Regions from separate parts of the Homo sapiens genome. Here region 2 is linked to region 1. The links come from fine-mapping of genetic effects on gene expression. A gene starts in region 1. The other region holds a variant in brackets. All regions are shown on one strand. Distances are from middle to middle.

Region 1 (2,898 bases):
AAGCAAAGCGGAGCATGAGGTTACTGTGTCCCGACGCGGAGGGCGGCAAGGCCCAGAGCAGCCGAGGTCCGAGGGTTGCGGCCACTCCCAGGCCAGGCCCTCGGCTGTGATGCCCAGCAGCCTGGGCGGGAGGTGCTGCCAGGGACGAGGCCAGCCTGCCCCCAGGGAGAAGGCAGGAGGGGTTGAGCTGGATTCCAAGTAGAGTGGGCGGCCGGAGAGGCCCCAAGGAGGGAAGGCAGGCAGAGGTCTCCAGGTGGGGCAGGCGGGGCCCGGAGGGGGCAGGGGCACACGTACCAGGCTGTCCCCCGAGAGGACCTCCAGCAGGGAGATGAGGTTGTGGCCATCGCGGAGGTCTTCATACAGGTCACTGATGTGCCTCTGGGCCTGTGGGGACAGCAGCGGCTGAGGTGGCCAGTCCCCCAGAGCCACCAATAGGCCCTGAGTGGCTGATCTACAGAGTGGGTGCTGGTCCCAGAGGGAAGGAGGCGGGGGCTGAGTCTCCCGGGAGCCCACGGAACACACCCTGCCCCACGGAGGCACCTACCTCTGCCCGCCAGTGCTGCAAGGAGAGACCAGGAAAGACCAGAAGGAAGAGGAGGAAGAGAGAGGCAGGAGCAGGCGTAGGGAAGAAAGAGGACAGAAAATAACAGGTTTCAGAGATGAAAGGTGAGCACACAGGCAGCATGGGGACAGCCTTGGGCGGCAGGGGCCACCCTCCCTCAGCGCCTCCCACAGCCTCAGCCCCTGTGACACGCACCAGCATGCGCCACCAACCTTGATGAGGTGCTTGTTGACCCACTTGGTGAAGGTTTTCTTCTGCACACGATCCCGCTCATCTGGGGGAGACAAGACCAGCTTACCTGGGGCCTGGGAGAAGCCCCGGGGGCCCTCAGGTGACCACCGTGCAGACACAGCAGCCTGGCTGGCCAGGTCCTGCCTGGGGAGCCCCAAAGCCTCCCTCAGATCACACACTGAGACCCAGGCGCCCTCACCCGCAGCCCAGCCACACAGCAGAGACCCAGGTGCCAGGGGCCCAGGCGCCACCAGGTGCAGCCACCCCACCCCGGACTCTTCCCCCGAGGAAATGGGAGGGTCCTGGGCGCACCCTGAGCCCAGGGCACACAAGTCCCGTCCTGCAGTCCCCCCCGGCCTCTACAGACTGAGACCCAAGCAGGGGTGTGGCAGAGCCAGGGCCCGGGCCCGCTGGGGTGTTGGAAGGGAAGCCGCGTGTGCTGCTGACAGGGCAGCGAACCTTCCCCAGAGCGCAGAGTTCCTCGCCCTTCCAGGCCCGACATCTGACGCTCGGAGGCCCCCGTCAGCCTCGCGGGCGCCTGTCGGCCCACTCCGTGTTGGGTGGGGATGGCTGGCCCCCGACCCCCATCTCCAAGACCAGCCCCCCAGCGGTGCCAAGGCTTTCCTGCCACAGGAAGTGGGCCTTCCTCCCGCAGGGGCCCGCCCTGCCTGGCGGGGGTGCCCGAGGGGAGCCCTGCTACCTTTCTTGCCCTCAGAGGCCCTGAGCACAGCCAGGTACAGGTTGTCCTCCGAGCTGGTTCTCTTTCGGCCCAGGCCCTCGGGCTGCGGCACGCGGAGCTGGTGCTGAGACATGCTGCCCCCACACCTTCGTCGCCCGGACCCTCGGCCTCAGGCACGGTGCTCTGGGCAGCCCCGTGTGGCACACAGGCAGCTGAAGGCTGGCGGCCCCACGAGACGCTCACTCGGCACAGGCTCAGCTCAGAGCCCCAGTCGGTGCGGCCACTCCCTGCCTGCTGTACTCCCCGGCGAGGCCGGCCCGCCCCCGAGGCCCCACCCTGCCCAGGCCGCCGCCAGGGAGGGGAGTGTCCCGGCGGGAAGGAGCAAGCAGCCCCCTCCCCCACAGACACGCCCTCGGCCCGCCAGAAACAGGAAACCGGGGTTTCCTCACCCACCCCGACCACTGCAGCCCCCTAGGGGGACCTGGGGACACGGGGAGCTGGCACTTCACTGCACACCAAATGGTGCCAGGACCGCAGAGGAACACAGGCCGTCCCCACAGCCACCCAGAAGGACCCCCCAACAGACTGAAGGGCTCCCCCGACGGGAGGGGCTCTGAGGCCACGCCTCTCTTTGGAGCTCCCTCCAGGCCTGGGCCAGGCCCTGCTTCAGCCTCTGCCCACCCACCCTGCCAGGGCGGACTCAAGAAGCCGCTGATACCTGGCGAGGGGAGGGGACCTGCTGCCTGTCAGCTCTTGCAGCCCCCCAATCACACCTCTTCACAGACCTGCATGAAGCGGGGAGCACACCCTGCCCCATGGTGCCTGCCCTGGCCCTGGGGCCAGTGGGGTCCCACCCCAGGCCTGGCCCCTCCCAAGCTGCCCACCTGGCACATCCTGGAGCAGTGCCCACCTGCGGAGCCCACCCTGCCCCAGGCAGACACCTCACGTCGGAGGCGCGTAGCTGAGGGCTGACTCACGGAGGCCGGGCCTCATGGGGGAATGGAGCATCGGGAAGCCCCAGGAGGGGCCTCGCCAGTGAGTCAGGGATGGGGAGGGGGCCCAAGCCTGTGACTCACAGAGGGGAAGCCACACCTGAGGCAGGACCTGGGCGACCCCAGGGGTGGGGGGTGCTGTTTGCAGCTGGGTGGGGCTCAAGGGAAGCAGTCTCATGCTGTAAAGGGCAAAGGGCAAAGGGCCTGCGCTGGCTGGGGCCTCCGGCTCCCTGGGGTCCGGGGCGGAGCTGCCTCTGGCCAGCTTCTGGGCCTGCCCAGCCCACCCGACCACCATAGGAAAGAATGCGCTGCCCCAACCACAAGAATGTTCCAGCCGCACATCAGGCAGATTCGGTCCAGCTGGGAGCTGCACTCGGCCTCAGTTCTGGGAAGAGCTCACCCCACCTCATTCCTACTGCCCCTGAGGCCGTGAG
Region 2 (2,898 bases), 130 kb after region 1:
GCTGCCCCAGCCCCATTCTCATCCCCACACGCAATCTGCCAGAAGTCCTGTTACTTTCACCTTCAGAACACAGAGCTGCTACTTCTCACACCTCCACCCCGGCCAGGCTTCCATCACGTTCCCCCAGGGATATGGCTGTCCCCACCACCAGAGAGCGCAGGGCTGGGAGGACAGAGTCTGCCGTTGCAGTGACTCTGACAGCTTCAGGCACAGACAACTTGCACCCACCTCAGGGCCTGGCACAGGCTGTTCCCTGGGCCTGGAAAGCCGCGCCCCAGCCTGGCAGCTCCCTCGCCCGCTCAGGCTCTGCTCAGAGGTCACTTTCCCAGACCTGGCACCTTCTCCCCGCCGCACATCCTGGAAGAGCCCCAGGGCCCTGGCTTTGCTCCAGAGGCACCGCAGCACCCAGCGGGTTTGCCCAACTCCACAGAGTCTTGGGGCCCCGGTACGGCTCACCTCTCTCAGCATTCTTGAATTTGATCGTTCTCCGCCTGGGTAGCCAGGGACTGGCAGCCACCTCAGCCAGGAACCCGGAGCTGCAGAAGCCCAGGCTGCTGCCGCGGTTCCTGAGCACCAGCTTCAGCTCCTGGTTCTCCTGGATGAGCTGCACCAGCCGCCGCAGCTCTTCGTTCTCCTGTGCCAGCCGCTGGATCTCCTGCCGCAGGCCCTCATAGCTGCTGAGGAGGGACATGCCTGGCAGCCAGCGGCGGCAGCTGGCGGGGGCCAGCAGGCCGGCCAGGGACAGCAGACCCTGCTATTGTGAGGTCAGCAGCTGCCCCTGCCCCCTCGCCTCAGCCGCATTCCGGGCCTTCAGGGTCAGGACCCAGCTGTTCCAACCACCCCGTGGCAGAGGTGGCCTGACCTCTGACCTCCAGCCCCCTGAGGGCCAAATGGCCAGTGGGTGCCCAGAACTGTCCCAGGTCTCTGGCTCACTCCAGGAATCCTCCTCCTAGAAGATGGAAGCTTCTTTGACCCGGCCAAGCCCAGGTGTGTCGTGGGGGAAGGGATATGGGATGCAGGCTTCCGCACCCACCCGTCTGACAGCCCACTGGCCACCAGCCACAGCCTCCAGGCCTGGCCATGCCAGGACATAGTTTTAGGCAACCAGGTGTGGTATGTCGGCAGTCACGGTTGGCACAGCTTCTGAAGGGATCAGGAAGGGTGGGTGCGTGGCTGCCCTGCAGGATGGGGCCCAGCAACAGCAGGAGCTGGACAGCAGCAACCAGGGCAGGCCAGGGCTACAGGGGCAGAGCCAGCCGAGAGCACGCTAGGACAGCATGGGAGGGGGCTGCAGGCCAAGGGATGCACCAGGCAGTGCTAGAGCCACCACAAGGGAGGCTGGGCCTGTTTCTGGGGGCACAGGGCCTTGGCATTGTCACATGGAGGTTGCAGCGAGCAGGCAGGTGCCCTGGAAGAGGCACCACATCTGGGCCATAACCTCAAGGAAGGGGATGGGCCAGGCGGCCCACCAGAG[G/A]CTGAGGACCAGGACCTAAAGACACACCTCCCCAGGGACAGGAGAGCCACCCTCACCCTCAGTGGTGACAGTGGTTTGCATTTTAGATCACATAAAGGACTTTCTTCTTCTATCCAATCTGTCTTTTTTTTTTTTTTTTTTTGAGATGGAGTCTTGCTCTGTCGCCCAGGCTGGAGTGCAGTGGCGCCATCTGGGCTCACTGCAAGCTCCGCCTCCCAGGTTCACGCCATTCTCCTGCGTCAGCCTGCCAAGTAGCTGGGACTACAAGTGCCCGCAACCACGCCTGGCTAATTTTTTTGTATTTTTTTTAGTAGAGTCGGGGTTTCACTGTGTTAGCCAGGATGGTCTCAATTTCCTGACCTCGTGATCTGCCCACCTCAGCCTCCCAAAGTGCTGGGATTACAGGCGTGAGCCACCGCGCCCAGCCTCCAATCTGTCTTTAAAGGGACACTTCTGCACAGTTACTTTGGTTTTCTGGCTTTTTCTTACATTATGATTATTATGTATTTTACATCATTTTTCTCTTTTGCTTGTTTGATGGTCTAGTTTCCACTTGCTGATTTGTAGACTGTCCTGGGATTCTCAAACTCCTTTCCCTGGCTACTCGAGTGGAGCCATCGCAGGGCCCCTCACCTGTGCGAGTGGGGGCAGTGCCCCTGAGACTAGTGCTCCAGGAGACTGGGGGCAACTGTACTGAATCCCAACAGAAATTGTGACAATTTAATTCTCGGCCGGGTGCAGGGGCTCACACCTGTAATCCCAGCACTTTGGGAGGTTGAGGCGGGCAGATCACCTGAGGTCAGGAGTTCGAGACCAACCTGGCCAACATGGTGAAACCCCATCTCTACTAAAAAAAAAAATACAAAAATTAGCTGGCCGCGATGGCAGGCACCTGTAATCTCAGCTACTCAGGAGGCTGAGGCTGGAGAATCACTTGAACCTGGGAGGCAGAGGTTGCAGTGAGCTGAGATCGTGCCACTGCACTCCAGCCTGGGCAACAGAATAAGACTCTGTCTCAACTACAATAAAATAATTCCTATAATTAGGAAGAAAATGGAGTAGAGTATTTTTATTTTTTTATTTTATTTTATTTACTTTTTTTTTTTTTTGAGATGGGGTCTCACTCTGTCACCCAGGCTGGAGTGCAGTGGTGCAATCATAGCTCATCGAAGCCTTGACCTCCCAGGCTCAAGGGATCCTCCTACCTCAGCCTCCCAAGTAGCTGGGACCACAGATGCATGCACCACCATGCCTGGCTAGTTTTTTTGTTTTTTTTTTTTGGTAGAAACAGGGTCTCGCTATGTTTTGTTTTGTTTTTTGAGATGGAATCTTGCTGTCACCCAGGCTGGAGTGCAGTGGCGTGATCTCAGCTCACTGCAAGCTCTGCCTCCCGGATTCAGGCCATTCTCCTGCCTCAGCCTCCC

What was found. PIP is the estimated chance that this variant, and not a neighbour inherited with it, causes the effect.
Region 2: its variant is the best candidate, but not a certain one, in a credible set for the expression of PLEC in whole blood (INTERVAL, PIP 0.78).

The regions. Positions count from the first base shown.
Region 1 is chr8:143,937,857-143,940,754 of GRCh38, forward strand. It overlaps PLEC (plectin), which reads right to left and starts at 1,741. Exons shown (of 32, transcript NM_201384.3): 1 at 1,494-1,741; 2 at 775-836; 3 at 295-384. The coding sequence starts at 1,605. RefSeq lists silencers at 1,358-1,457, 1,738-1,967 and enhancers at 1,478-1,717, 2,128-2,187, 2,365-2,659.
Region 2 is chr8:144,063,244-144,066,141 of GRCh38, forward strand. It overlaps a transcript of OPLAH not described here and a transcript of EXOSC4 not described here. Among named protein-coding and RNA genes, the nearest start is that of OPLAH, 4.0 kb to the left of the region's middle. The variant G/A (reference allele first, on the strand shown) is at 1,475.